Regions from separate parts of the Homo sapiens genome. Here region 2 is linked to region 1. Evidence: fine-mapped expression QTL. A gene starts in region 1. The other region holds a variant in brackets. All regions are shown on one strand. Distances are from middle to middle. Region 1 holds the start of GAB4 (GRB2 associated binding protein family member 4). Region 2 overlaps GAB4 (GRB2 associated binding protein family member 4).

Region 1 (15,886 bases):
TCTGTGTCTTTTAATTGGAGCATTTAGCCCATTTACGTTTAAGGTTAATATTGTTATGTGTGAATTTGATCCTGTCATTATGATGTTAGCTGGTTATTTTGCTCGTTAGTTGATGCAGTTTCTTCCTAGCATCAAGGGTCTTTACAATTTGGGATGTTTTTGCAGTGGCTGTGCAAAGGTTGTCCTTTCCATGTTTAGTGCTTCCTTCAGGAGCTCTTGTAAGGAAGGCCTGGTGGTGACAAAATCACTCAGCATTTTTTTGTCTGTAAAGGATTTTATTTCTCCTTCACTTATGAAGCTTAGTTTGGCTGGATATGAAATTCTGGGTTGAAAATTCTTTTCTTTAAGAATGTTGAATATTGGCCTCCACTCTCTTCTGGCTTGTAGAGTTTCAGCCGAGAGATCAGCTGTTAGTCTGATGGGCTTCCCTTTGTGGGTAATCTGACCTTTCTCTCTGGCTGACTTCAACATTTTTTCTTTCATTTCAACTTTGGTGAATCTGACAATTATGTGTCTTGGAGTTGCTCTTCTCGAAGATTATCTTTGCAGCATTCTCTGTATTTCCTGAATTTGAATTTTGGCCTGCCTTGCTAGGTTGGGGAAATTCTCCTGGATAATATCCTGCAGAGTGTTTTCCAACTTGGTTCCATTCTGCCCGTCACTTTCAGGTACACCAATCAGACGTAGATTTGGTCTTTTCACATAGTCCCATGTTTCTTGGATGCTTTGTTTGTTTCTTTTTACTCTTTTTTCTCTAAACTTCTCTTCTCGCTTCATTTCATTCATTTGATCTTCAATCACTGATGCCTTCTTCCTCTTGATCAAATTGGCTACTGAAGCTTGTGCATGTGTCATGTAGTTCTCGTGCCATGATTTTCAGCTCCATCAGGTCATTTAAGGACTTCTCTATACTGTTTATTCTAGTTAGCTATTTGCATAATCTTTTTTCAAGATTTTTAGCTTCTTTGCGATGGGTTCAAATATCCTCCTTTAGCTCGGAGAAGTTCATTATTACTGATCGTCTGAAGCCTTCTTCTGTCAACTCGTCAAAGTCATTCTCTGTCCAGCTTTGCTCCGTTGCTGTAGATGAGCTGCTTTCCTTCGGAGGAGAAGAGGCGCTCTGATTTTCAGAATTTTCAGCTTTTCCCTGCCCCTAGAGGTGGAGTCTACAGAGGCAGGTAGGCCTCCTTGAACTGAGGTGGATTCTACCCAGTTCGAGCTTCCAGGCCACTTTGTTTACCTACTCAAGCCTCAGCAATGGTGGGTGCCCCTCCCTCAGCCTGGCTGCAGCCTCGCAGTTTGATCTCAGACTGCTGTGCTAGCAGTGAGCGAGACTCCATGGGCATGGGACCCCCCGAGCCAGGTGTGGGATATATTCTCCTGGTGTGCTGTTTGTTAGGGCCATTGGAAAAGTGCAGTATTAGGGTGGGAGTGTCCCGATTTTCCAGGTACCATCTGTTATGGCTTCCCTTTGCCAGGAAAGGGAATTCCCTGACCCCTTGTGCTTCCCGGGTGAGGCAATGCCCCACCCTGCTCCGTGGGCTGCACCCACTGTCTGACAAGCCCCTGTGAGATGAACCCAGTGCCTCAGTTGGAAATGCAGAAATAACCCATCTTCTGCATTGCTCATGCTGGGAGCTGTAGACTGGAGCTGTTCCTATTTGGCCATCTTGGAACCTCCGTTTTCAACATTCTTAAAGAAAAGAATTTTCAACCCATAATTTCATATCCAGCCAAACAAAGGTTCATAAGCGAAGGAGAAATAAAATCCTTTACAGACCAGCAAATGCTAAGGGATTCTGTCACCACCAGGCCTGCCTTACAAGAGCTCCTGAGGAAGCACTAAATATGCAAAGGAAAAACTGGTACCAGCAACTGCAAAAACATACCAAAATGTAAAGACCACCGACAGGATGAAGATACTGCACCAACAGGCAAAATAACCAGCTAGCATCATAATGACAGGATCAAATTCACACATAACAATATTAACCTTATGTTCTCACTCATAGGTGGGAATTGAACAATGAGAACACATGGTCACAGGAAGGGGAACATCACACACTGGGGCCTGTTGTTGGGGGCGAGGGGGGAGGGATAGCATTAGGAGATATACCTAATGTTAAATGACGAGTTAATGGGTGCAGCACACCAACATGGCACACGTATACATATGTAACAGACCTGTACATTGTGCACACGTACCCAAAAACTTAAAGTATAATTTAAAAAAATTAACCTTAAATGTAAATGGGCTAAATGCCCCAATTAAAAGACACAGACTGGCAAATTGGATAGAGTCAAGATGCATCAGTATGCTGTATTCAGGAGACCCATCTGATGTGCAAAGACACACATAGGCTCAAAATAAAGGGATGGAAGAATATTTACCAAGCAAATGGAAACCAAAAGAAAGCAGGGTTTGCACTCCTAGTCTCTGATAAAACACACTTTAAACCAACAAACATCAAAAACGAAAAGAAGGGCATTAAATAATGGTAAAGGGATCAATGCAACAAGAAGAGCTAACTACCCTAAATATATATGCACCCAAGACAGGGGCACCCAGATTCATAAGCAAGTTCTTAGTGACCTAGAAAGAGACTTAGACTCCCACACAGTAATAGTGGGAGACTTTAACACCCCACTGTCAATATTAGGCAGATTAACAAGACAGAAATGAAACAAGGATATTCAGAACCTGAACTCAGCTCTGGACCAAGTGGACCTAATAGACATCTACAGAGCTCCCCACCCCAAATCAACAGAATATACATTCTTCTGAGCACCACATAGCACTCACTTATTCTAAAATTGACTACAAAATTGGAAGTAAAACACTCCTCAGCAAATGTAAATGAATGGAAATCTTAACAGTTTCTTAGACCCCAGTACAATCAAATTAGAACTCAGGATTAAGAAACTCACTCAAAAATGCACAACTACATGGAAACTGAAAAACCTGCTCCTGAATGATTACTGGGTAAATAACAAAATCAAGGAAGAAATAAAGATTTTTTTTAAACCAATGAAAACAAAGACACAATGTACCACAATCTCTGGGACACAGCTAAAGCAGTGTTTAGAGGGAAATGTATAGCACTAAATGCCCACAAGAGAAAGCAGGAAAGATCTAAAATTGACACCCTAACATCAAAATTAAAAGAACTAGAGAAGCAAGAGCAAACAAATTCAAAAGCTAGCAGAACACAAACTAAGATCAGAGCAGAGCTAAAGGAGATAGAGACACAAAAAAACCCTTCAAAAAATCAGTAAGTTTAGGAGCTGTTTTTTAAAAAATTAGATAGACCGCTAGCCAGACTAATAAAGAATCAAATAGACACAACAAAGAAGAATCAAATAGACACAACAAAAAATGATAGAGGGGTATCACCGCTGATCCCACAGAAATACAAACTACCATCAGAGAATACTATAAACACCTCTATGCAAATAAACTAGGAAATTCATAAGAAATGGATAAATTCCTGGACACATACACCCTCCCAAGACTAAACCAGGAAGAAGTCAAATCTCTGAATAAACCAATAATAAATTCTGAAATTGAAGCAATAATTAATAGCCTATCAACAACAACAAGAAAAGCCCAGGACCAGACCGATTCACAGCCGATTTCTACCAGAGGTACAAAAACGAGCTGGTACCATTCCTTCTGAAACTATTCCAAACAATGCAAAAAGAGGGACTCCTCCCTAACTCATTTTATGAGGCCAGCATCATCCTGATACAAAACCCTAGCAGAGACACAACAAAAAAATAAAATTTCAGGCCAATATCCCTAATGAACATCAATGCAAAAACCCTCAATAAAATACTGGCAAACCGAACCCAGGCACATCAAAAAGCTTATCAATCACGATCAAGTCGACTTCATTCCTGGGATGCAAGGCTGGTTCAACATATGCAAATCAATAAACGTAATCCATCACACAAAAAGAACCAATGACAAAAACCACATGATTATCTCAATAGATGCAGAAAAGGCCTTCCATAAAATTCAACACCCCGTTCGTGCTAAAAACTCTCAATAAACTAAGTATTGATGGAACGTATCTCAAAATAATAAGTTATTTATGACAAACAATCAATAAACGTAATCCGTCACATAAAAAGAACCAATGACAAAAACCACATGATTATCTCAATAGATGCAGAACAGGCCTTCGATAAAATTCAACACCCCTTCGTGCTAAAAACTCTCAATTAACTAAGTATTGATGGAACATATCTCAAAATAATACGTTATTTATGACAAACCCACAGCTAATATCATACTGAATGGGCAAAAGCTAGAAGGATTCCCTTTGAAAACCGGCACAAGACAAGGATGCCCTCTCTCACCACTCCTATTCAACATAGTATTGGAAGTTCTGGCCAGGACAATCAGGCAAGAGAAAGAAATAAACGGTATTCAAACAGGAAGAGAGGAAGTTAAATTGTCTCTGTTTGCAGATGACATGATTGTATATTTAGAAAACCCCATCATCTCAGCCCAAAAACTCCTGAAGCTGGTAAGCAACTTCAGTAAAGTCTCAGGATACAAAATCCATGTGCAAAAATCACAAGCATTCCTATACACCAATAATAGACAAATAGAGAGCCAAATCATGAGTGAACTCCCATTCACAATTGCTACCAAAAGAATAAAATACCTAGGAATACAACCTACAAGAGATGTGAAGGACTTCTTCAAGAAGAACTACAAACCACTGCTCAAGGAAATAAGAGAGGACACAAACAAATGGAAGAACATTCCATGCTCATGGATAGGAAGAATCAATATTGTGAAAACGGCCATACTGCCCAAAGTAATTTACAGATTCATTGCTATTCCAATCAAGCTACCATTGACTTTCTTCACAGAATTAGAAAAATCCACTTTAAATTTCACATGTAACCAAAAAAGAGCCCGTATAGCCAAGACAATCCTAAGCAAAAATAACAAAGCTGGAAGCATCACACTACCTGACTTCAAACTGTACTACAAGGTTACAGTAACCAAAACATGTTACTGGTACCAAGACAGATATATAGACCAATGGAGCAGAACAGAGGCCTCAGAAATAACACCACACATCTACAACCATCTGATCTTTGACAAACCTGACAAAAACTAGCAATGGGGAAAGGATTCCCTATTTAATAAATGGTGTTGGGAAAACTGGCTAGCCATGGGCAGAAAACTGAAAGTGGACCCCTTCCTTATATCTTATACAAAAATTAACTCAGTTCTGAAGGAGGTCGGGGTCAAGATGGATTAAAGACTTAAACGTAAGACCTAAAACCATAGAAACCTTAGAAGAAAACCTAGGCAATATCATCCAGGACATAGGCATGGGCAAAGACTTCATAACTAAAACATGAAAAGCAATGGTAACAAAAGCCAAAATTGACAAATGGGATCTATTTAAACTAAAGAGCTTCTGCATAGCAAAAGAAACTATCATCAGCGTGAACAGGCAACCTACCGAATGGCAGAAATTTTTTCCAATCTATCCATCTGACAAAGGGCTAATATCCAGAATGTATAAGGAATTTAAACAAATTTACAAGAAAAAAACAACAACACTATCAAGAAGTGGGCAAAGGATATGAACAGACACTTAACAGAAGAAGATATTTATGTGGCCAACAAACATGAAAAAATGCTCATCATCACTGGTCATTAGAGAAATGCAACGAGATACCATCTCACGCCAGTTAGAATGGCCATCATTAAAAAGTCAGGAAACAACAGATGCTGGAGAAGATGTGGAGAAATAGGAATGTTTTTACACTGTTGGTTGGAGTGTAAATTAGTTCAACTATTGTCAAAGACAGTGTGGCGACTCCTCAAGGATCAAGAACTAGAAATACCATTTGACCCAGCCATCCCATTACTGGGTATATACCCAAAGGATTACAAATCATTCTACTATAAAGACAAGTGCACCCGTATGTTTATTGCAGCACTATTCACGACAGCAAAGACTTGGAACCAACCCAAATGCCCATCAATAATAGACTGGATAAAGAAAATATGGCACATATACACTATGGAATATTATGCAGCCATAAAAAAGAATGAGTTCATGTTCTTTACAGGGACATGGATGAAGCTGGAAATCATCATTCTCAGCAAACTTACACTGGAACAGAAAACCAAACACCGCCATGTTCTCACTCATAAGTGGCAGCTGAACAATGAGAACATATGGGCACAGGGACGGGAGCATTACACAATGTGGCCTATTGGGGTTGGGGGGCAAGGGAAGGGATAGCATTACGAGAAATACCTAATGTAGATGATGGGTTGATGGGTGCAGCAAACCACCATGACACGTGTATATGTATGTAACAAACCTCCACGTTCTGCACATGTATCCCAGAACTTAAAGTATAATAAAAAATTGAAAAAAGAAATGGAGAAAGACAAGAACGCAGAATTGATCATACCCCATACCTCAGGGAAGCAGAGGAAAGGGAAGATGACTATAGGATCAGCTTATTCTGGAATAGATTCTTGAAGGGCTGGACCTGGGGCTAAGGAACAGGAGAGAAAAGCCTCTTCTATGTACCTTGGTATAATCATAGTGACTCCTAACAATTACCGCTTCCTCAGTAAAATTGTTGAAATTTAGAACAACACTCTTCAAATTAGCCACTAGGGGAAAGGGCAACCAATCTTCTTTTTTTCTAAATCGTTTAACCACATGAATTAATATATAGAAAACTACACTGCAGTGCACACTGTCCCTCAGCAGGCGTGGTGGCATGGAAGGACGCGAACGACCCCGGGAGTGGCGGGTGAGGAGGGAAGGGGAGCGAGCGGGTGCGAGGTGCCCGCGTTTTCCTGGGGCCCGGGAGGGAAAGGGAGAGGGTGTGAGGTGCCTGCCTTCTCGGGGCTTGGGAGGGAAGGTGAGCAGGTTTAAGGCGCCTGCCTTCCTTGGGGCCTGGGAGGGAAGGAGAGAGGGTGCGAGGTGCCCGCCATTCTCAGGGCCTGGGAGGGAAGGGGAGCGGGTGCGAGGTTCCTGCCGTTTTGCGAGGCTGCGGAGCCTGCTGTGTCCCCTTTCCCGCCCACTCTCCGACCTGCAGGCCCACGGCGCTCAAGGTAATAGGGTCCCCAGCCCTGGAATCAACTCCCTGGGTCTCGGAACGCAACCCACACAAACCTGGACCCTGTCTCTCACTGGCGGGGAGTCGCCTTCGCATGCAGACGTGGAGAAGTCGCCTCCACCCGCAGCTCCTCCCGTGGACCCAGGCCGCCTCCCCCACGCCCCTCCCGGAGTCCCCAGACCCTCCGTGGCGCTCCTGGTACCGCCCCCACTGCCCCACTCACAAAGAGCCTCAGCTTCTTCTCGGGGGGCGACTTCCTCAGCCAGCCGCTGTACAGCACGTGGCCACTTCTCGTGCTTCCGCCGGCGGGGCCACTTCCGGGCCACGAAGACAAAGGCGCAAATGCCGGGTCAGGTGGGCACAGCTCCCGGGAGGGTGAGGGGGACGGCAGGGACATGGGGGCTGCAGCTCACAGTGAAGGTGGGGGAGACAGGGCGAGAGGGCGTTGCTGGAGGTGGGGTGTGAGGGACGGCTTGCGATACCCTGGGACTGCGGGGTAGAAAGCGCAGTTCTAGGGGAGGTCGGGGTCAGAGGTGAAGCTCGTGGGGAGGGCGAGACCCGGGCGCAGGTGCTCACAGGCGAGGGCGGGGTTCAGGTTCCAGCTGGGCTTTGAGTTCCGGTTCAGGCTTCCATCTGTGGTTCCGGTTCCAATTTGAGGTGGAGTTTGGGATTAAAGTTTAGACGAGGCCTCTCGTTCAGGGTTTGCGTTGGGGATTGGGGTGGGGATTTGCACCCTGGGTCAGCCTGGGTGCATCTCATCGGGACCACCGGGGCGGGGGACATGGGCCGGGTGGCTCCTTGGGAGAAGAGGGACAGGGAGCGCAGCTGGTGGAGAGGACAAGAACGAGGGGCGCAGCTCATTCAGAGGGCCACAACAGAGTCTCAGGTGCTGAGTCCCATGCGCCAGATGAGGAAAGACAATGGAAGAGTTCAGGTTCCTGCTGGGGTTTGAGTTCCAGTTCGGGATTCGGCCCATGGTTTACCTTCTGACTTGAGTTGGGGTTTGGGGTCAAGGTTCAGGCTAGGACTTGAGTTCCGGGTTGCAGTTTGGGGGTGGGGTTAGGTTTCAGAGTGAGGGTTTGGGCCTGTTTGTGTTGTGTATGTTTGTGAATGTATTGGGATGTCACCGTGTGTACTTATGTCACGTGTGTGCACGCATCAGTGTGTGCATGTGTGAGTGTTCATTGAGTGTGGCACTGACAGCCAACCCCTCTCCTCCCATTTATGCCCCACTGTCTTATCCTGGTTGGGGTGGGCTTTACAAGTTCCTTCCCTGGGCCAGTTGGAGGTTCTCATGTTGCCTGGGGAGAGAAGGGAAGGAGAGAACAGGTCAAAGATGAGGGCAGCTTGGCCTCAACCAGACCCGGTGTCACGGGGACCAAGAAGCCGGAGGTCCTTGTCTCCTGCCTCTGGAGGAGCTTGGTTTGCTTCTTTGTTCACACATTGTGTGAAAGCACAGTTGGGGGCATCTGATATGCACAGGATCTGTTCTTGCCTCTGCAGATGTCTTAGAGAACAGGACAGACAAGGGGCCTCTTCAGTAAGCCATCCCCAATGTGCACTGCATGTCAGCTTACAAGAGGGGCACAGGGGCCCCATCAGGTAGCAGGGAGGATGCAAGGAAGAGTGTGTGGGGATGGGGGTGCTGGGTGGGGCCAGGTGAGTGGGTGCCTGGCTTCTCCTCAGAGCAAAGGAAAGTGCTGAAGAGTGTGAAACTGTGTGACATGTTATGCTTTATGTTTTGAGAATGGATTGCAGGAACAAGCAGACATGGGGGACCTGATGAGGGCCAATGGGATGTCCATAGAGATAAGATTTGGCTTGAGCTGGTGGGAAAAGTGGAGATGGAGCCACATGGAGGAAATTGCAGAGTCTTGAGACTGAGGAGACATGTGGGTGGATGAGATATGAGTAGTGACCCGACCCTGAGGTGGGGAATGGGGGGACAGCCCCGAGGGGAGGTTGGTGAGGTGTATTTGGACCTATTGGGTTGGAGCCCTAGGCAGCATCCTCATGGGAGGACCACTGGGTCCTGGTCAGGCAGACATGGTGCTCAGGGAGACACTGGATGAGGTGGGAGCCATAGACCCTCTGCTGATGGCAAGAATGGGGTTCCTGGAGGTGCTGGCTCCCTCTGCAGGCTGCAGTCATGGCGAGTCAATTCTAAACTCACCATCACAGCTCACACTGTAAAGGACACATACCTTAGTATAAATCAGTTAGCCAACGAGGCCACAGGGTACCCAGTTGGATCCTGCCCTGAGATGAGAGTAGGTTTGGATGGGGTGAGACGGGAGAGAGGCAGTGGCAGGAATGAGGCAGATAAGGTCTTCCTGGATGGAAGGGAGCTCAGCCCCTGCAGTGACCTCGTACCGACTGGGGCCTCAGCAGGAGCCCCGACCTGGGTCCCCGTGGGCCTCTGACTGTCTTCTCCTGGCCTCAGGGTGGAAAGAACCCTCTTCCAGAATATGTCCTCTCCAGCAACATTCTTCCAGCCCCCTACAGTGCGCACAATGGGAACTTCAGGAGAGTGCAGAGACTGCCACAGGGCATGGAAGGCAGGTGTTGCCCCAAGGTCTAGCCTGCCCAGGATGTTGGCTTTGATGACGGTTGGGGGCCACTGTGGGCGACTTATGAGTGTTCTGAGCCTTTTTGTGTGTGTATACAGTGAATTTAAATTTATCCTCTGTGTCTCAAGTGGACAAAAAAAAACCACTTTATTTTCCATTGATGATTTATTTTTCTTGTGTCTTCCATTCCATGGTTGATGGAAAATATATATAAGTTTCTCATAACTTATCTCTGTTTCCTCTGCTTTGCAGCTATCCGTGCCCACCATGGGTCTCACCTCCTCCTTCTGTGAGTGTCTGTCCGGTGGCTGTCGGGGAGGGTCTCCAGCACTTGTGCTGCCCCTGGGACCCTCACTGACCCTGGGCTCCTGGTCTGCCCACCCCTTCGATTCCCCTGGAGTCACACATTGGCACCAGAGTCAGGAATGGGCTCTGCATTTCCCCCTCTGTGGGCCTCGTCTGGCTCCCACAGCCCATGTATCAGCGAACTACTTGGGGGTCACATAGGACCCTCCCCTCCCTGCTGAGCTGGCAGTTCATGCCCCGTGGGTAGGAGGAAGGGCAGAGGGAGAGCTCCAGGGGTGGGCTCCAGTGTGCTCCCTCAGGCTTCTCACTTTGGGCAAAGGACACAGGGCATGAGGGCCTCTCCCTGCGGTCTGGACCAAGCTGACCTGGGTCTTTACCAGTCAGGAAAATAAAATAACTTTTATCTGAGAAATGCAAGTGCTTTAATTATCAGGCCCAGAAAGAGGCATTAAAATGAGACCACAGTCATGTCCTACTCCCTCACATTGAGCTGTGTATTCATTTCTTGATACTGCTGTTGCCAGAAGTAGCTATGAATTTACCTCATAATGCCACACCAGACGCCATACCCCACACCCTATAGCTTAACAGTGTACGGCCCATCACTAAGCAGTGTTATTGCTATGAACCAACTAAAATTCCTGAGGAATTGTATCTGCCCCTTCCCTGCCCACCTTGTTTTGCCTTTAAAAATCAGCTCATAACTGCTGCTAATTGCAGTGTATATTCAGGATAACTTGAATCTATGCTCCAGAGTTGCAATCCTGAAGTTTGTCTCAAATAAACTCTCTACTAAGATTAACTTTGTCTCAGCTTCTTCCTTGTAGGGTGACACCAGGATCTCCTTTCCTGGTGCTGCAGGGCTTCCCTGGACCCTGTGCAGCAGAGATATCCCCTCCACACAGTATTGCCAGCATATTATGTAGAAAAATCATTTTCCCTTTCAACAGGAAGCCCAGTTCTTAGGATTGTTGTTCAAAAATATAATTTAAAGCTTAAAACTGAGCACTTGGGTCTTGGCAGATTTCCCATCTTTCCTCACAGTGGCAAATGTGACTGTCAAGAGCCTGGGCAGCTGAGGACAAGTCTGAGCGGGGCAGAGGTTGTGATCGTACCCTGGCCTGTGTCATCCCCTTGCAGACACCAGCCCTTCTCTATAGAACCAGGGCATCTGCCAGGGATTATTTAGGCCTTGGGTGAGGGTCTGGCAGGGAGCAGTGCAGTGATGGAGGGTGTGGTGTGTGTGTGGCGTGTTGGATGGATACTTCTGGTCCCACCTAGGGAAGAGCTTCCTTTTGGAAGCAGAGGTCTCCTGTGTCCCCACAGAAGGATTCAGGTCTGCTGGCCTTTCCCAAGCACCTTGAAAGTCACCAGTCTTCGTGTCACCTGTCCGTCATGCTATGTGTGTGTGAGAGAGAGAGACAGAGAAAATTGTTCAGGTGGGGGTACCCAGTCTCTGTAGCTGCTGAAAGGCCCTGGGACACATGCTGCATGCTGCCAAGTGTTTGTTTTTTCCTCAGCACATGTCACCATCTGTACCCTGGTGCAGGCTGCTGTGAGCACCAGGCTCTGTGCTAGGGGAGCAGTGAGGGGACTTGAAGAGACTCAGGGTCCCATGTTGAGGCTGAGCTGGCACATAGTAAGGAAGACAGAATGCTCCTGGCACAGGTGCTGCTTGGCCTCTGGGTGTGGACATCAGGAGGGCTTCTTGGAGGAGGAGGGAGGGCTTGCTGAGGAGGAGGCTGCCACTCCCAGGGTGAGTTCTGATCATGCTGCCTGATCCCTTTCCTCATCCCATACTCTGCTTCTAACCTGGATGGGGGCCCACAGGGCCAGCGTGCAGCTGAGCCAGGACTGTGCCAGCACCTCGCAAGGAGCCTTGGAATTCAGTGTGCGAGAGGCCACTGCAGTACTCACCTGTGACTCAGCATGTCCCTGGAAATCTGTCAGCCTGGAGGAGAGCAGGAGGGCATGGGGACACCTCCTAGGGGCCCCAAGTTTGGAGGATATGCTGCCAGCAGAGTGTGAGGAGTGAGAGGCACCGCTGCCTGCCTACCTGCCACTGGAGGACCAGGCCCCTACATCCCCGACAAGCCTGCTCACCGAGACTGAGTGGGGTAGCAGTGGCTACTATGCCTTGGGCTGCTCTGGAGGGATGCAACCCTTCAGCCCTCTCAGGAAGCACATGGAGCCCTGAACCCATCCCAGCCCTGCCCCATGGCCTGTCACATGACCACTGGGGCTTGGAGACCTAGCGAGGAGGTACCTGGGCGGTGAATGGTCCAAGCTAGAGGCATGGGCTGCACAGGGACATCCAGGGCCCACAATCCCCTCCTGTCTTCACCATGGCTCAGTCCTGAAATTTCTAGGGCCCAGACACAGCCACCTGCATCGTGTCCATCTTAGGGAAGATGGACAAAAGTCTCTGGAGCTGGCCCTTGGCTGGGACAGGACCTCCTGAGAAGGGGCCTCTAGCAGTGGTCAGAAGTCCTGCCTGGATGGAGGCTGGAAGCTCCTCCTTGCCCGACCTGCTCAGCACCTGTGGGGAGGGGCCTCTGCCCTCAGCATCCTGCCCACAGCACCACATTCTCCTGTCCCCTTTCTGGCTTTATCTATAGCCACTCTGAGAAAAGAGGTGTAGTCTCCCAGCCTGTTCTGCTCTTACCCCTTAAAGGGCCAGCATGGGGCCAGTGGACACAGGTGAGACACCATAACCTGGAAGTGGTGACCTCTCCATGCCTTCCTGAGGCACCTTTCGTAGATATTAAAAGGTGCATAATGGCTTTTCCAAAGTGCTGATGCCTGGGAGGAGAGACCAAGGGAGGGGTGGAGTTTGGCCAGGCCTGGTGGGCTTTCTAGGCTCCAAGAACAGCAGGGTGCAGACTCAAACCAGCTCCAAGATAGTAGGGTGGAACATCAATGACAGCTCTGGGGACAGCGGAGTGGAGGCGCAAGGACAACTGCAGACAGTGGGTTGGAGGCTCACATGATCCAGCACTTCCCTTCTGGGTGTCTACACAAAGAAATTCAAAGCAGAGTCAAAGAAGTATTTGTACATCTATGGTCATAGCAGAATTATTCACTAATAGCTTAAATGTGGAGACAACTCTAATGTCCATGACAGATGAATGGATATGTGGTCTATACACATAATGGAATATTCTTCATTTCTCAAAAGGAAGGTAATTCTGACAAATAATATTAAAATAACCCTGAAGATATTAGAGTAAGTGAAATAAGTCAGAAAAGACAAATACCATAGATTCTGCTGTTATAAGGTCCCAAGAATAGTCAAATGCATACAGACAGAAAGTAGAATGGTGCTTGCCTGGGGCTGGGTGGAAGGGAGAACAGAGAGCTATTGTTTAATGACAGAGGGTTTCAGTTTTACAAGTTGAAAAGAATTCTGGAGATGGATGGTGGTAATGGTTGCACAACCATATGAATGTTAATATTACTGAACTGTTCACTTAAGCAAGGTTAAACTACTATAGTTTATGTTATGTGTATTTTAACACAATTTTAAAAATTGGAAAATAAAACACCTAGAGCCATGATCTCTAAGGCCGTATGTGTTCTGCCCCTATTACTCCTCACTCACTCCATTCCAGCTCCACTGGCCTTTTTCTGGCTCCTCAGACATGCCAAGCACTCCCTGCCTCGGGGCCTTTGCAGTGTCTGTTGCCCTCACGTGGAATGCTCTTCCCACAGATCTCTCTATGACTCTCTCTCTCTCACTTGCTCTGCTCTAATGTCTCTTTTTCAGTGAGGCCTTTCCTGATCACCCTACAGAAAAGCACCCAGCAATATTCTCTATTCCTTTTCCTTGCCTTGTCTTGGTAGCACTTGCTCCTTGCTGACATATAGAAAAAATATGTGTTTATGCAATGGTGAATATGATGACCACAGATTTTTCCCCAGCCCTGTTCTAGGCAGAGACTGGGAAATGGGTCATTCCTGTCCCCTATTCCAATTCTCTCCTTCTATAATGGCTTATTTTTCCTTTTTAATGTTCTAACCTAATGTTGAGCAATTTCAGTTGATTTTTTCATAAGCTGGAAGGTCCATGAAATCTGTTTCTATGGCCATTATTTTCTCAAACACTGCAGTGTCTTTTTTCAGTGTTTTCCATATATAATGATATTCCTAGGAATATCTCCTTGGCCTTCCTATCTAAATTCACCCAATGTGGTGTTCTTCATATTTCAAGTGAATTCAATACTGCCTTCATAATTGTTGGCCCCTTTAAACTTTTATTGTCCCTGATAGGTAGGTGCTCATCTTATTGGTTAAATGATTTCGGCAATTTCCCTTTTTAATTATTTTTATTTTTATTTTGAGACAGGGTCTCAGTCTGTTGCCCAGGCTGGAGTGCAGTGACATGATCTCAGCTCACTGCAGCCTCGACATCCCAGGCTCAAGCAATCTTCCCACCTCAGCCTCCCAAGTAGTTGGGATTACAGACATGTGCCACAGCACTCCACTAATTTTTTTCTATTTTTTTCTATTTTTGTAGAGACAGGATCTTGTTATGTTTCCCAGACTGGTCTGTAACTCATACACTCAAGTAATCAGCCCATCTGGGTCTCCCAATGTGCTGGGATTACAGGCCCAGCCTAAAATGTCTTTTTGATAGAGTGATTTTGAAGATTAAGCAGGCTAGTGGGTCAAGCACGTAGTACAACATTTGAAGCCCAAAGGCAGGGAGTGTGAGCCCCAGGTGGTGGTGGCGGGGATGAAAGGAGAAGCAGGAGGCAATGGGGAACGAGACACTTGAGACTGGAACTCAGGGCTCTTCAGAGAGAGAAGCTTTCAGGTCCTGGAGAAGGGGTGAGACCCATGCGAGTCCCCTGGATGCTCAAAAGGAAGGGCCAGGTTTCCCTGACACAGTGGGCTCCGTGGTCTCCTCCCCTCCTTTTCACCTCAGGAGGGAGGGAAAGAGGGGAAGAGAAGGTCCTGCAGAGGAGGCAGGATGGCCGGTTGAGGGGGGCCTTGGGCGCTTTTTCCCAAGGGCTGCCTCCTGTGGCAGCCCCAGGGGCTTCCTTGAACAAGAACTCCCTGCTCTCCCGCTGAGAGCCAGGGTGGGTCCTCTGTCCCTCACCATGAAGTTCAATGAGTATTGGAGAGTCCGCATGAGGCGAAGGGGCTTCAGCCCAACCGCTGGTCCCTGCTGCACTCACTCTTCAAGAAGGACCACCAGCTGCCTGATGGTGAGCATGGAGCAGGTCTGAGTGGACCAGACTAGGGCCAAGAAACACACCAAAATTGAAACACAAAGAAATACAAAACATGAACAGACCAATAACAAATAATGAGATCAAAGCTGTAATAAAAAGTCTCCCAGTAAAGAAAAGCCCCAATATTCTATGGCTTCACTACTGAATTCTAACAAGCATTTAAAGAACTAACACCAATCCTACTGAAACTATTCCACAAAATAGAGATGGGGAATACTTCCAAACTCATTCTATAACACCAGAATTACCTTTATACCAAAATCAAAGACACTTTAAAAAAAGAAAACTACAATATCTCCAATTAATATTGATGCAAAAATCCTCAACAAAATGCTAACAAACCTTTAAGCAATACATTAAAAATATCATTCTTCATGATCATGTGTGATTTATCACAAGGATGCAAGAATGGTTGCAAATCAATCCAAATGATACATCACATCAACAAAATGAAGGAAAAGATTATATAATCATTTAAATTAAGACATTAAAAAAAATTTGATAAAATTCAACATCCCATCATGATTAAAAACCCTCAAAAACCTGGGTAGAGAAAGAACATTATTAACATAATGAAAGCCATATATGACATACCCACAGCTAGTATCATACTGACAGGGGAAACACTGAAATCCCCTTCTCTAAGATCTGGAACAT
Region 2 (15,886 bases), 45 kb before region 1:
ATCACAAGATGTTAGGACACACTAATTTTTGGCTCCTGGGGCTATGGGATGTCAGAGCTAGAAGGGACTTCGGGGGTTACCTTGCTATACCGCTTATTTTCCAAACCAAGGTCATTGCTGTGTTTCTGATCCCAAACACTCTGGGCCAAGTGTTCACCTTCTCTTCCTCCAGGTCCCATGCCTCCAGCCTCACCTTGAACTAGAAATGCCTGTTCTGCCTTCGGCCTGGAGGCCATGGGTGAGGAGAAGCTCCTTTGGGGCCTTTGCTTACCCTGGGCACTCCTGCTTTTTTGTGAAGCTTCAAACACTCTTGGCTTCATTTGAGAACAACTCACAGCCTTTTATTTCCAGGCTGCAGTGGCTCTTTGCCTTCCTGGATCACAGCCAAGTGTGTGCAGGGGGAGGAGTGGGTGGAAAGGAAGCTCTGGTCAGGCCTCCACAGTGACACCCTCCCTGCCCCAGGACCTACCTGCATCTGACTACAAGAGCCTACTTCATGGAAGAAGCTATTGAGCCCTTGTCCATGCTAGCACAGGTTCATGACAGAGACTGTGGGGCCATGGCAGGGCCCCCTCGAGCCCCATTCTGTACTGCTGCCCACATCTCTCTCTCCAGTGATTCCACCTACTGCATTAAGTCTGGGGCCTTCATGTGCTGTAAGTATCATTCATCTACTGTGACCTCTGAGCACCCACATTGCCAGGCATCCCTGGGCTGTTGAGGGTACAGAGGTGAATGAAGAAGGTGAACAAGAAGGGGGAGAATGGCCTGGGACCAGGGACCCACAGGACACCACTACCCTCTCTGTGAAGGCGCTGTGTGGTCTCCAGCTTTGACTTGAACCTGGTCAACTACTTCCTGTTCCCTCAGGCTGACAGCAGAGAACCGCTGCTCCAGCGAGGTGGGTGCTGTCCTGAAGGGTGTTGAACAGGCAGGGGCCTGAGCCAGGCGCCACACTACCTCATCCAGAGATTGCTGTGCTTCCCCTTCAATGCAGGAACTGCAAGATCCTGGGTGACATCACTGCCCCACTTGCTGGTGCCAGGCCAGGACTGTGGACTAGCACTGAACCAGCACTCTCTGGAGTGTCCCAGGAGAGCCGTCCCAACCACTGCTAAGCCCGCAAGGGTGCTGCCGCCTAGGCCCTATGGGAACTGCCCACACAGGTGGCCTTCTCCTGCTGTCTATCTGCAATGTCCCCTCCCTTTTACCCAAGGAAGGTCTGTGTGCTCTTTTACCAGCAGTGGCCTAGGGAGGGGCCCAAGGCTGAGCCGGGCTCTCCCAGAGTCTGGACCATGTCCACCCTCCATAGGGCTGAACGGAAGCCATTTCCAAGGACAGCAGCATCCTCACCTGTGGAAGAGCAGACACACCAGGATCCTGGATTTGATCTCCTGGGTGGAGATGCATCCAGTCCCAGCCAAGCACTGGTTCGATACAATATTTCCCTTCACTTTGAGCCTTTTAAAAAAATCCATCCATCCATTCATTCATTCATTGCTCAGTGCTCGGAATATATCGGTGGCCCAGGCACCTAACCCCTTACTTCAGAGGAACAGACTTTGAATAATGAATTATGCAGTTGTTTAGTAAGTGTGCTGTTCTACGAGTGTGAATGGCCAAGTGTCAGTGGGAGGTTAGTTCTACCTCCTAACTGTGCCTGTGACTCCACCCTTTAGAGTTAAGGGTGGTATCAAAATATTTAACAACTGGAACAGCAAAGGCTTTGGCCAGCAGGATGAGTTTCAGCCATGGACAGCCAGAGCAGTAGCTGAGGGCTGAGCGAGGGCAGTCCAGTGATCTTCTTGTGCCTTGACCATGCTATAGCCTCTTTTCTATGAAGAGAAAGACCCTTGTTCTCAAGCAGTATGAAACCAGCCTCTCTGAAGCCTTTGAAAGCTGTTGCTCTTCCTGTATGCTGTACCCTCGATTTCCTCACTGCATCTGGGCAGCATGATAGGGACCCATGCTGCTCCTTGGTAAGGAGAGGACATACCCCTGTCCCCATCACTTGAGGTACAGCATGGAGTGACAGCCCTGTGTGCTGAAGGACTTGCCTAGTTCTGAGGCTGGGAGGACCTAGAGGATGGAATGGAAGAGAGAGGAAGGGTGCACAGGATGGGGGGTCCCAGTGGAATACTGTGGAGGGGACTCACCTCTCAGGTGCACTTGAAACCCAAATAAATAACTGGAAATGTTTCAGACCCAAGAATTCTGGACTGCCCACAAACACCTGTTGCAGATGCCACATCCCTCTTTCCTTGCATCTGAGAAGCTGGGGAGGTTGAGAGGGGGTTGTCACATCTCCAGAGCTGGACTTGGCATGGGTCAGGGCTAGCTGGGAGGCAGCCCCCTGTTTCTCCAGAACTCGAACCCATCTCCTTCCCATGGACACCATCCCATCCAGGAGCTGGAGAGGAGCACATGAGCAGCCACACTGGCAGGGCCCAGGACCAGCTGTCACCACAGGGCCATGGTGCACCTACCATGCCTACACCTAGCTCCTTACCACAGGCAACAACCCAGCCTGGAGCTAGAGAAACGCAGGAGCAGCCACACTCGCAGAGCCCAGGATCAGCCCTCACCACAGGTTTCCCACTCCAGAGCCCGCACCCGGCTCCTTTCCTGGGCCCCACCCCATCCTGGAGTTGAAGCAGAGAAGTGGGGCATGTACGGGGCTTGGGAGCAGCCCTTACCACAGGGTCCGCAAGCACCATTCCTACAGTGCCATTTGGGAGAACATGGAAGGTAAAAAGGCACCAGGGACCTCAAGGGCTGCCCCACTTGTGCAGTGGGTGGAGCAGTGGAGGGGAGTTGTGAGATGTCAGACCTCAGGAACCTGTTGCCAGGGGCCCAGTGGACACAGACACAGATGAAGCCCTCTCAGAACCACCTCTAGACTCCCTTCTAAGAAAGACGGATTGGCAGGTGCTAGCACAATGTCCAGTTTACAGATTAGGAAAGTAGATTCTGTGATAAAGAGAATTTATTTTCTCTCTGAGCCAGGAAAAGTACCTATTTCCTATTTAAGATGAAGTGAACAGACTGGCACAGTGGCCTTCCTGGGTCATTGGAGAAATGATTCTGAAATGGTTTTCTTGTTGACAGTGTGTGTCTGTGCCTGCCCAGGGCAGCCAGGTGCTCAGGCTCAGCCTAAGGTGAGACTTGAGTGAGTGTGGGCTCCACTCCCAGAAAGACCCAAGCAGCCCACCCTGGGCTGTATTCCTCATGAACTTCACTACCGTCCTGCTCCAGTGCTTCAGTACAAAGGAGCCTGCCAGCACGAGGCCTGTCCAGTGACCACAGCAGAAATGATAGCCTCTTGAGCACACTCCTGTCACCCCCAGGTGTGCTCACAGGGTAAATACACATAACAAAAGTTTTAAAAGAAAATGGAATAACTTCAGTGATTAGGCACCAACAGTGATTTGAAAAATGAAATGTCGGCCGGGCACGGTGGCTCACGCCTGTAATCCCAGCACTTTGGGAGGCTGAGGCGGGTGGATCATGAGGTCAGGAGATCGAGACCATCCTGGCTAACAAGGTGAAACCCCGTCTCTACTAAAAATACAAAAAATTAGCCGGGCGCGGTGGCGGGCGCCTGTAGTCCCAGCTACTCGGGAGGCTGAGGCAGGAGAATGGCGTGAACCCGGGAAGCGGAGCTTGCAGTGAGCCGAGATTGCGCCACTGCAGTCCGCAGTCCGCAGTCCGGCCTGGGCGACAGAGCGAGACTCCGTCTCAAAAAAAAAAAAAAAAAAAAAAAAAAAATGAAATGTCAATTTTAAATGGTACCAAGACAAGAACTTAAGACTGGGCTTCTTGCCCATTTTCTCTTAATGAGAAACCAAACATTCTGTACAAAATGATTCTAAACAGCAAGATACAAGTAGCCAACAAATACACAAGGACACACACCGCTGGACCAAACATACCAGCCTGACTCTGCAGTGGGCTCTCAGCAGGCAGACGGCCATCGTCCCAGGCCTCAGGGGCCTGGTGTATCCCAGAATGATGCTCTTAGTGCTCTGCAGGTCAGCCTCCCCTCCCCCACACTTCCCAGATCAAGGCCCAGGCCCAGAACAGAAGTGCTCACTTCCCTGTCCTGCATGTCCCTGGGGGTCACAGTCATGTGGGTGATGCTGTGCCAGGGCCTGGGACTAAGATGACAGCCTCACAGCACGTTGAAGGACCACAAGGCCGACTACAGCTGAGCCTATGTTCCCATAACCAGAATGGTTGTGCTTCTGCCGTAGGAATGTGGTCTATTTTAATAGTTTGAAATGAAGAAGTTGTCCATATCAAGCCAGAAAGGGACTAATTGGCCAAAGCTCTCGTGCTGCTCATCCCTTGCGATGCAGAGCCTCCAGAGAGAAGTAACAGAGCAAGGAGCTCCGAGACCAGCAGAGCCTCAGCCTAGGAAGGGGCCAGACAACATCGAATCCAACCACCCACTCCACAGATGGGAAAGCAAAGTCCTAGGGAGATGTCCTTGCCCGTTTCTCATTGTTCCCACCTGACTGCTCTCTAACTTTGCAGGTGGTGGGGGTGGGTGAAGACGGCTCCCCTGGAGAGCCCAGCAGGACAAGCCCCCATGTGAGCTGCACTGGCTGAGGTGTCCCTTTTTGGGGTCTCAGTCCTGGCCAGGCCACCAGGGGAGGTGGACTTTAACCTCAAGATAGGTCCAAGGACCCCTGTATTAAGCTGAGTTGACTTTTCCTTCTGGGATGGTGGGTGGAGGGGGGGATACATGCTAGACATGGCTGGAGTCCAGGCTTGGGAGTAGAGCTCTGCTTCCAATAGGCCAGTGTCCTCTTCTCTTGTCCTTCTTTCCATCTCCACCCCTACTTTCACCCTCAGGGTTTGGTGGTCACAGGAACCAAGAGCTGGAAGGAACCCCTCTGGAGATGGGACTTGAACACCTCAGTCTCTGAAGCCTCCACCAAGTTCATGCACACCATGCACACTCAGAACATGCAGCACTTTCTTAGCAGCCTGGGATCAACAGGGAAGGTGGCTGGGCTGGGAGCTGAGATCAATACTGGGCCCCACTGTAGTCAGCTGGGGACAGGGGATGGCAGTTAAGAGCTGTGCTGTATGGGACCCCTTGTAGAGGACCTTACAGGGACACAGTCAGGGCTGGGCCAGTGAGCCAGCACCCTGCACACTCTGCCCAGTGTGGTCACACAGCCATCACCATTCCACCCGTGGGAGCACAAAGGCCCGGCCCCTGCAGTTCTGAGCAGCTGGACCTGCCCTCCAAAGCTCCTGTGGCCCCTCAGCACAGGCTTTTCCAGTCTGTCGTTCCTTCCTCCACTGCAGCCTGGCCCTGCCCTCCTTCCCTGCAAAAATCTGACCTAACCTCTCAAGACTAATTCAGGCACCCCTTGTCCTAAAAACCACCTTCTCTGCCTCCACTCCCTGAGGAGTTTTCACTTCCTGTGCACCCCATCAGCATCTTCAGCCTATCTTGGCCATCACCACTGTCTGTGTCCTTGTCCTTTCCCTCACTGATGTGACCTTGTCACGTTTGGGAAAAGGTCTAATAGATTCCCCGTGTCCTCAGTGCCTAAGCCCGGGGCCTTGCCACCTGAGCCTTTGAGCTGCCAGGGGAGAGGGCTCCTGCTGAGGGATGGATCCCCAGAAGCCAGCCAGGCCCCTGGTCTGGTGAAGTGTGGTGCTCACAGGTGCTGACAGGGTGTGGAGGCCGCCTCCATCAAACCCTGTGGGCAGTCATTTTTTGGAGGAGGAAAGTCTGTTCACCCCAAGGTAGGATGAAGTGTCCGCTCTGCCCTGTTCATTCTGAAACTCTTCGAAATTTTGGTCAAAAACTTTCAACAAAAAATTCAGATCCCTACCTGAACTTTGGCACAAGAAGCCCTGGGTGAGGGCCTACCTTCTGAACCTGCGATTTGAGAATCTCTCAAGTCACAGGAGGAGGAGACTGGCTTCTCCTGTCCCCATAGCCAAGTTTGAGTCCAATGTGGCACTGGAACGCCAAGGAAGAGGGCGAAGTGAGAGGGAAACACGGCCTGGCACAGCCTCAGCCCCACCCCAGGCCGTCCTCCCTGCAGGCTCTACCCGCGTCCCAGATGCCCCTCCAGCTGGCCTCCCACACTGCTCCCATGCATAGCAGACCCCCCTTCACCTTCTGCTCCTGTATTCCTTTCACCACTGATGGCATGCCCCCAGGGCCCCTGGCCACATTTCCCCACTTCTCCCTGGCTGTCTCCCCGGCCTTGCCTCCCATGGGTTCCCTCTGTGCCCTCCCCACTGCTCTGCCCCTTCACAGAAGGTCACGTGCTGCACCACCTGCACTGCGGAGTCCCGGGCCCTGCCTCGGGCCCCTGCCTGTCCCAGGAGCCCCTCAGCCCTGAGCCATCTCCATCTGCACATGCTCCCTTCCTCCCTCACTCCCTGCCCCATCCCACCCCTCACCCTGCAGGTATTTCCCCCATCAGTTGCTGCTTTGCCCAGCTCAGATCAAGCCTTCTTAGGCAGGCAAGGGCCCCCCAAGGGGCATCAGCAAAGAGCAGCAGAGCCAGCCTGCAGCTCCGGATTTCTGGGGCCCTGACCCTGGTCCTTGTCACCCCAGTCTCTGGAGCTCCAGCCCTGCTTCTTGTGGCTTTCGGCTGTTCGTCTTCATGTTTTCCCTTCCTTTTGCCCTTCCCTCTCTGCCTCTCCCACCCGGGAGCAGCTGCCATACTCTGGCCTCAGTCTGAAAGTGGGAGCCCTTGCAGGTATCAGCTGCCCTGCTGGTCTAAGGATCTAATTCCTTTGCTTCTCAAGACCACCTTTAACCTTCCTTCTCAACTATTCCAACGTTTGATGGCCTTGCCTCTCCCCTGACCAAAAAATGCCAGGGCTGAAAAGGTCCATGTCCACTGTGGCCTGTGGGCCTTGGGTCCCCGGGTCAGCAAGGTAGCTCCTCATGTTCCAGGATTGAGGGAAACAGCCCAGAGGCTAGAAGGAAGAGGCTGAGGACCATGAGTAAGTGTGAGAGTGGAAATCT[G/A]TTGGGAGCCCGGGTCTGAGGGGCAGGAAGAGACTGAGGATGCTTGCTGGCAACTGCTCCTAGCAAGGGGGTGAAGGTGGGGACCATGGCCAGCCAAAGGCACAGGTGGGCCCCAAGCAGGCAAAGGATGTATATTGATCAGGCCTCTGCTCTCTATGTAAGGGATGCGGTCCCTGATATTACAGAGCTTTAGAGTGTGGCGGAGCAGCTCTGAGGCACTGTCCTGGCCCCACTCTGGTTTTGGTGGCCCGAGTCACAGCTTGGCGCCCCTGGGAGGCTCTGAGGACTGCCGCAGGCACATCTGTTCATGCATGGTCTTCTGCAGGGCCTGGGTCTTCTCCAGATCCACCTGGACATAGTCCACCTTCTTGCCGGACGTGACAGAGCCTATGGATGGCTGAGGGACAGAGGGTGGAAGTGGGAGTGGCAGTGTCTGTGAGTTCCTGGTGAGGAAGGGCAGGCCAAGGAGTGGGCTCTCTCAAACTTTCTCAGGGGGAAGGAACCTCTGCCTCCTGCTCTCAGCAGCCTGGGGGGCCTGGGCTTTAAAGCCTCAACTCCAGGCTAACCTCTCCTCCTGCTGGATGCCATAGCCCTGGCCAGCACTTCTCATCTCCCACCTCGCAGGAAGAGCCAGGCCCTTCTCTGGCCCAAGGACTGGCCAAGGCCTTCCCCTCTAAACACTCATCCATGGCAGGAAATTTCCCAGGTGTCAACAAGCACCAGCCTAGGCCTTTCCAGGGGTGCCCTTGGTGAGCCCTATCTCCCCAAGGGGCGCAATGCACAGAGATGGAGCTCTCCACCCTGCTGTCTAGACAGGCTGGCTACATGTGCTTTCTCGGGAGGCTTTCCTGGACCCAGGAGTTCCTTCTGAGGTCCCCCGCATCAATGGCCGGGCTCTAGAACCCTCCCACACAGTGAGTTCTCCTCACAGAAGAGTTTGGCCTGGAGCCAGGTTGCCGGTCCTGGGTCTCTCCTGATTTATTCCACAACCTCCACAGATCAGGTCTCCACACAGTCATCTGTCTCTAATGGGGAGTCGGGGCAGGCTGATGAAGGCACCACGCTGAGAGGGAAGGAACAGGAGCCCCGAGATCCAGATCAGAGCACCACTGAGCATAAGAGCCAGGCACTGGGCTGGGAGTGGCAGCCCAGCAGCCCAGTGCTGCCGGTGCTGAAGGGCCTGGCCCCACAGTCTCTCCCCCAGGGCCCAAGGGCTCTGCCCAACCCCAGCTCCACCCCAGGCACCTTGCTCGGCTGGAAGTCCAGGGCCGCGTAGTGGATGTTACCAGTGCTCCTCGGCGGGGCTGAACTGCTGGTGCCACCGGAAACAGGAAATGCAGATGCCGGGTTCTGCTGTCACAAGGAGGAAAATCCTGCAAATGAGTTCAGGACACAGACCCAGCACCCAGTGGAACACACCTGTGGGCGTAGCTACGAGCCCACTGGGTCCTACTCTGAGCCATGCACTGGGGCACTCTCTGCTCATTCAAACCCTTTCAGCAGTCCTGTGAGCCAGGTGTTACTACTGTGCCTCTCCTTCACACACTGGATGCTGCACCCAGTCAGTCATCTGAAACTCCCACCCATGGCCCAGAGTAGGTCCATCCTATGAAGCAGCTGCCTCCCCCTCCAGCTCCCAGAGATCGGCAGTGCCCACCACCTGAGGCTGCATGGAGCCTACCCCCTTGGCAGCTCTCCAGGAGACACGCAGGGTCCCGCAGCCTCCTCTCTAGAAGGCTGCCACCTTGCTGGGACATTCCTGAAGTCTGGCTCTGGTGAGAAAAGTGGCCGCCCTGGGCTCTGGGTTTTGGCTGCTTTGCTGGCTGGCTCATTCTTCCAATATCTATGCAGCAACTATCAAATGTTGGTCATGATGCCCTCTTCAGTGCCAATCTAAGGGGCATCCTGTGTTCCACCTGCATCTCCACGTCTCTCACAGCCCTCACCAGGGTGAAGCATGTACATGTGTGTCTCCCCATGGCGAAGCAGACACCTCCAACTCTGCCTCTTCCAGGGCAGGGCACCACCTGTATCACCGTCATGAGGGCGAGGTGGGCTGCCTCTGCTCTTCAAGTTCCAGACTTCCTTGAGGGGAGACCATCATCTTCCTAACCCTAATGATTGCCTGATACACCTGTGCTCAAGAAGAGCTTGCAATAGGAGACCAAATCACACCTGACTGGGCTGGGGTGAGTCAGCTGAGGTAGCTAAGCTGGGAAGCGGGGACATGAGTGTGGGTCCCAGGGGACTCTGATAGGAGCCTTACAGTGACCCCCAAGGACTCACCGGGAAAAGATACCTCTCTCCACTGTCTTCTGAGTCTGTGTTGGTGATGCTCTGCGTGGAGATGGGGTGTTGGGAGGAGCTGGAGTCAAAGGTGTGGCTGTCATGGGAAGAAGGCAAGGAGTACATCCTGGGTGGGGCTCAGGGCTGCTGTCAGGGCTCCAGCCTCCAGCTGGGCCCTGACTTCAAGCATCCAGGCCTCACACTGTTACCAGATCAAGAACTGATAGGGACAGGGATCATTATTCCCCCTTTACAGATGAGAAGGCCGTCACGCCTCATGAGACGGAGACAGGATCAGCCATGTCCACATCGACATGAGCATCCAGTTATCCTGACCACAAGCCAATGACCATCCCACTCACTCCTCCACCGGCCCGGTCCCAAGCTCCTGTTTCCACTGACAGACACTCACCTGGTCCCAGACCAGGGCTCTGTGACAGGTGGCTTGAAGGAGAGCTCATTGATGACCCTGTTGTTTCTCAGGTTGGGCGGTGTTGGGTTGGCTGGAGCAGGAAAAGAACCTTGTCATCAGCCAGTGATGACACCACACCCATGTCCACTTTGCTACAAGGCCCAGGTGTGCTTAGAAAGGCCCACCCCGTCCACCCAGTCCACCCAGCTGTGTGCGGGGGACTGAGGCTTGGCAAGGCTCTATCGGCTGGGTCATGCTGAAGGGCCTTAGAGTTCTGTTCTCAGATTCCAGATCGTATGCTCCTCCCACTGTATCTATAGCCACTGTATTTTCAGAATCCAAAATGGGGACTCATAGTCTGACAATAGATTTTTCTGCCTAAATTTGACTTGATATAAAAAACAGACACAATGTTTGAAATGGATTTAGTCCCCATGCCTGCCCCTGCTTGCCTTGGACAGGGCTGTGTAGCCCACCATGGAAGCAGGTAGACACCATGAGGTGCTGAGGCTCCAGCGCCACTCGCTGGGTCTGGTTCCCTGTGGCCAGACCCACAGGACTGATCCCCACCCAGTTATCCCACTCCTTCCTTGAACCCCGTGCTGGGCCAAGGCCACAGGGTGAGGTCATGGCAGCCTGGAACCTGAGCTCTAGCTCTTCTTCCTGGTCTACACGTGGAGGGCACAGACCAAACTTCACTGGACACCTGCTGTGAGCCAGGGCCACTGTCCCAGACACTCTCCTTCCAAACAAACCCGGGAAGTAGGAGTTACTATCTCCATTTCACAGAGGAGAAAACTGAGGCTCAGAGAATTCACATGACTTGCCAAAGTCAGACGTTCCACATCCAGGATCCACCTGACACCTAAGCGAATGCAGAGTCCCTGGACATTGTCAAGAAATAGAATGGGGAAAGACTTACCCTTCTGGTTAGGCTTGAGGCTGCGGTTGACAGGGGGCAGCTGGACCTCATGTCCCTGGCTGAGGTCTTGGTGCATAGAAAGCTCTGTGAGTGGGGAGCCAAGCAGGTCAAAGCGAACAAGACATGAGCCCACAGGGATGCAGACACCCTGGGAATCATCGCCTGCTTGCTTCACAGCCGGCAGGGTAGGGGAGCCTGGGTTCATGGGCACACAGCTGCCCTCAGAAGCAATGCTGTCTGACAGGCCCACAAGCGTTCTTCCTGGCTAGGAAGAGGACAGTGAAAGAAACACAGCTATCACCAGCAAGAACAAGATAGGAATGAGAATTTCTAGACAAGGCCAAAAAGAGTCATGACGGGGTGTTTTGAACGAAACTTTTGATCACCTTGGCTGGGGGCTGCTGTCTTCAGCAGCCACCTGCGGCCCAGATAGAAGTGCCCCAGCCAGGAACCCCATGGATGGGGCCCCTCTGGGCAGCCTCAGGGGTCAGACTTTGGAGCAGCTTCCATGACACAGTCAACATGTAAAAGTGGAAGAGTTTTCAGTTCTTACAGGTCCTGGGAGGTTAGGGAGTAAGAGGAGAGAGGGTGGCAACTGGAAGTGTATCTTGCAGAATGGGGTGTGGGATCACTTAATTAAGGTCAGAGTAAATGCCTGGATGGTCCATTTAAAGGGAGCAGCAAGAAAGTGGCGAGCCCAGTCTGCTGCATGGGGGAGGTAAGTCTAAATTCCCATCTCTGGCCACTGACTGAAGCCACATGGGTGTGGTGTAGAACTGGAAACCATCAGGGAGACTAAGTCCTCTGCCTCTGGTCTGAGAAAGTTAAAACTCCATTCGATGTGGATGCCAAGGCAGCATACAATTATAAGAGTTCACTACATGGGGAGGGCTACACTTTGAAGCTATCAGAGTGACCTTGGAAAGACTCTGAAATCAAAGTAGAGGCAAGAAAAAAATGAGATGTCTGGGCACTTCTAGCTCTCAGGACCCCTTGGGGTCCAACTACAATTTGTGACAAATCTATGGGATAAAATATCTTTAGTGGCTGGGTCCACTCAGGTTTCTGGATGCTGGGCCCAGGCAGAAGGCAGCACAGGCCGTGCACCATGCAGGTGTGGCTCAGCACCCAATGTCCACGTGGGTTTCCGGATGCCGGAGCCAGGCAGAAGGCAGCACAGGCCATGCACCATGCAGATGTGGCTCAGCACCCAATGTCCACTCAGGTTTCTGGATACCAGACCCAGGCAGAAGGCAGCACAGACCATGCACCATGCAGATGTGGCCTCGAGACCCATCATCCACCTCAAGTCCTGACTCGGCACTGGCAGGTCAGCATCTCAGGCCCTGATCAAGGCAAGGATCACATCAGATGTCTTGGCCCTGGAAGGTGACGTATGGGGTGAGGTGCACTTCCCCAGACAAGGAGATTCCTCTCCCCCAATGGCTGTGATTAGCAGACAAGGTATCAGGGAGGTATAGGGAGCCTGGGGCTCACTCGGGCTCCTGGGTGACCACCAAGCTGCAGGCAGAGCTGCCACAGAGTTGCGCAATGCAGCAGACCTAGGTACAGCCTTCCTCCAGCTCCTGCCTCATCTGCCCTCTGCCTTGGTTACCTAATTCCCACCATCTTTGTAAGAAGCCTGACGCCAGGCCTTGTTGCTTGTCTGACACCTTGGAGAACTGTGGTTACCCTTTCCAGGTGGCAGCCTGGAATCCATCCACCTCACCTGACTCTGAGTACTGCCCTTGCCTTGAGGCTCACACAGAAGCACCCCTGCTCCAGAGGATCTCCTGGATAAGGTTGCTGAATCAGATCACCCACCACCCCAGCAGCCTGTCCCCTCTGCCTACCCATACCAAAGGCTCACAGGGAAGCACTCCTGCTCCAGGGGACCTCATGGGTTAGAGCACCTGCTTAGAGCACCCAGAACCCCAGCATTCTGCACCCTCTGCTACCCACAGGGCTGGTAAGACTTGTGATCCCATCTACTTAAGTACTCACTTTCTTCCAGACCTGGATACCAGTATCTCACTTATCCAAAAACTGAACCTATGGTTCTGAACTGAGGCAAGAACCTAGGCAGCCTCCTAGGAGGGAGATGCTGTCACCCTTTGGGGGATGTGCTTTTAGTTCCATGGAGTGTGACCTTTACCTCCCTGAGCCAGTCTGGGGACCCCTGGTTAAGCCATACTCACCAGGAAAGAACAGACTCCCTCATGCATGGACTCAGCAGGCCGGCTGGCATTCCCTCCACCATGCTGGGTGTACTTGCCGGAGGAAGCTACGACAGAGGAAGGAGATCCACATGCATCACAGCTGATCCATGTGTTGATGCCTCCCACGCCCTCCCCAGTGCTGCTTAGGGTCTCGCTGATGCTCTAGAGGACACGACTCTCAACCCCAAATGACAAAGCGTTACCTCTAACACATCCCTGCTCCCTACCACAACTCCTCCTGGGCTTCCAGGTCCAGCTCCAGTGTTACCCACACAGTGTCCCTCCTGGATGCCTGCCCTCAGGACACACCTTTTCCTTCAACTCCTACAGCACCCACCACCCATCCCTTTCACCCACCTGCCACCTCCAGGAATAGTAAAGAGTGCTTATACTGACTTCTGCATGTCGGTTTCATTTTATTTTACACATAAATGTGAGCTCTGAACAGCAAACATGTTTTATATATACCTCTATCATTTCAATTTCACAGCACAAGGGCCTTGCTCAAATTGCTGAAACACTAAAAAGACTGCAAAGAACTCTAACCCAGGATCCAGGACCTCAGGGTGAGGCTCATCTTTACCACTTATGACTTTCAACCCTGAATAAGCCTAAGTACCATGGGCCTCATATAAAATGGAGAAAACAAGGCTTTGCCCCACCAGACTCTCTCATAACAGGAAGAATAAACAAAGGCTTTGCAAGGTATAAGAATGGATGCAAAAGGAAAGGAGTTACTATTGATCTATTTGTTTTCATTGAGGAGAGGAGGTTATATGCAGATATAAAATACTCTCAGTGGAAAACAAATGAGAAAAGAATCTAGGTATTTCAAATACAAGTTTAGGCTTCAAACAAAGAGACCCAAATATAGGCTGGAAAATATTTTGAAGATCTCATTTTGTTTCAACAGTCTGTTAGTCCACACTGGTTTGGCTCTAGTTTTGGACTGATCTCCTAAACTTCTGTTTTAAGTCTTTACTCGGATTTAAACATACATACACTATGATGATTTAGAATTCCAAACCCATAATGTGCTGTACTGTAACTAAGAATGTTCTGTCTCCCTTAGTGGAGGCCAAGTCTGCCAGTCTTGCCACTGGGTGTCTATTAACAGCCTCCAGTGCTGGGGGACCCAGTGGTCAAGGTCCAGGCAGGAGATGAACTTGACTATCAGTGACCTGAGTGGCTCCCAAGTCTCCCTTGGCCATGGGAGACCAAGGACTAGCTAACCACTGAGAACCCGGTGCCACCTCCCCTCTCCCTCTGGGTCTCAGTGAGGGCTCATACTGACCTTGGTGACATCGGCTGTTGTCTACTGCAGGAAGGGTATTCCGCCTGGGGATGGCAGCAGCAACAGACCACCTGCTACTTTCACTGACTAAAGGTCTCTGCTGAGGGCTGCCCCACTGACATGCTTCTGCCTGACTTGCCTTGGGCAGGGGAAGGGAGGCTATGGGCCCAGGAGTGGCCACCACCATGGCATAGAGGTTCTTGTCTAACGTGACTGTCCTAGGAATCTGGTGCACTGAGAGTGGGGTGGCCGGAACACCACTATTGTTCACCAGGTGGCCCCCAAACTCCTGGAACAGGGTGCTTCTGGGTGCCTTGAAGGGGTACACACCCTCATTATCCGCCTCAGAGCCTGTGAGGCTGCCTCTGGTGTGGCCATGGGAGGCCAGGCTCCAGGGGATTCTGTGGGTGCTGCCTCTGAATTCTGCATTGTGCTGGCTGGGCTTGGAAAGGCTATGGAAGCCATGGATGTGACCGCTGACCCCATCAACACTGTATCCACTGTGCTGGGCAAGATTTTGCATGGCTGTGTTTCTCCTCATGATGAATGGGGCCTCAGAACCCTGGGAGAAGCTGGCACTCCTAAGAGAGAGAAAGAAGGGAAGGGGCAGGGGTGAGAGGAGGCCAGGACTGCCCCAGGGAGGCAGGCGGGGAAGTTCACAGCCCAATGTAGTGAGATGATATGGAGAAAACACAGGAAGAGGAATTGGGCAGACCTGAGGTTTGTCTAGTTTGGGAGTTTACTACCTTGTGGCCTTGAGTATTTTCCCTTTCTGAATTAGTTTCTCCATCTGTAAAATGGTGATTAAAAACTCACTTTGCAGGTTGCTTAGAAATCAGACTCTAGTATATCTAGAGTCTAATTCAATCAAGGCAAGACCTTATTCCTCTCCCCCAATGGCTGTGATTAGCAGGGTGGTCAGTTTCACCCCCACAAAACAGAGCAGCAAGCCAGGTACACTGGCTACTGGTTCCCTGCTGTGAGCATTGCAGAATGTGCACAACTGAATGCCCAGGCTGAGAGACGGTGGGGAGAGCTTTGAAGTGGGTGGCAGGAAGCAGCAAGCGAGTCATCTCATCTCTGAGTGTCAGTGTTCCCCTCTAAAGTAAACCAGCTCATGGGTGTCAATGGGTAAGTTATAAAGAACTATTCAGACATAAGCAACAGATCCATCTTCTACCAGGTTTTACGGTGGTTAGAGAGGCAATTCGAAGGAAAAGTTTCTCTCCCCAGAAACCTAAACATCTATAGAAAAAATGGTTTCCTGTTTGGCAACTCTATTTGGATAGAAAAAGGTTTGAAGCCAGGCACGGTGGCCCACACCTGTATTCTCAGCACTTTAGGAAGCCCAGACAGGCAGATGGCTTGAGCTCAAGAGTTCGAGACCAGCCTGGACAACATGGCAAAAACCTGTCTCTTCCAAAAAAAAAAAAAAATTAGCCGGGCATGGTGATGTAGTCCCAGTTACTTGGTTGGGAGGCTGAGGTGGGAGTATGGCTTGAGCCCAGGAGGCCGAGGCTGCAGTGAGCTGAGATCATGCTACTGTACTCCAACTTGGGCAACAGAGCCAGACCCTACCTCGGAAAAAGAAAAAGTTTTGAATTATTAAAACGTAAGTTTTGGGAGATAAGGCAAGTAGTAAAAAGAGAATCAATGAATGAGGAGGGAGCTGTGGCAGTTTCCAGCGCTGCCACCGATAAGCTCTGTGTGCCTTCCTGATCACCCCAGACACGACCCAGCGTCA

Evidence for each region. PIP is the estimated chance that this variant, and not a neighbour inherited with it, causes the effect.
Region 2: its variant is fine-mapped to the expression of GAB4 in testis (GTEx, PIP above 0.99).

Annotation. Positions count from the first base shown.
Region 1 is chr22:17,000,602-17,016,487 of GRCh38, forward strand. GAB4 (GRB2 associated binding protein family member 4) reads right to left here and starts at 7,621. Exons shown (of 10, transcript NM_001037814.1): 1 at 7,340-7,621. The coding sequence starts at 7,513. It also overlaps the pseudogene IL9RP6.
Region 2 is chr22:16,955,471-16,971,356 of GRCh38, forward strand. It overlaps GAB4 (GRB2 associated binding protein family member 4), which reads right to left. Exons shown (of 10, transcript NM_001037814.1): 4 at 14,473-14,723; 5 at 12,828-12,913; 6 at 10,630-10,894; 7 at 9,708-9,798; 8 at 9,296-9,392; 9 at 8,255-8,359; 10 at 6,466-7,406. The coding sequence ends at 7,263. Among named protein-coding and RNA genes, the nearest start is that of GAB4, 45 kb to the right of the region's middle. The variant G/A (reference allele first, on the strand shown) is at 7,010.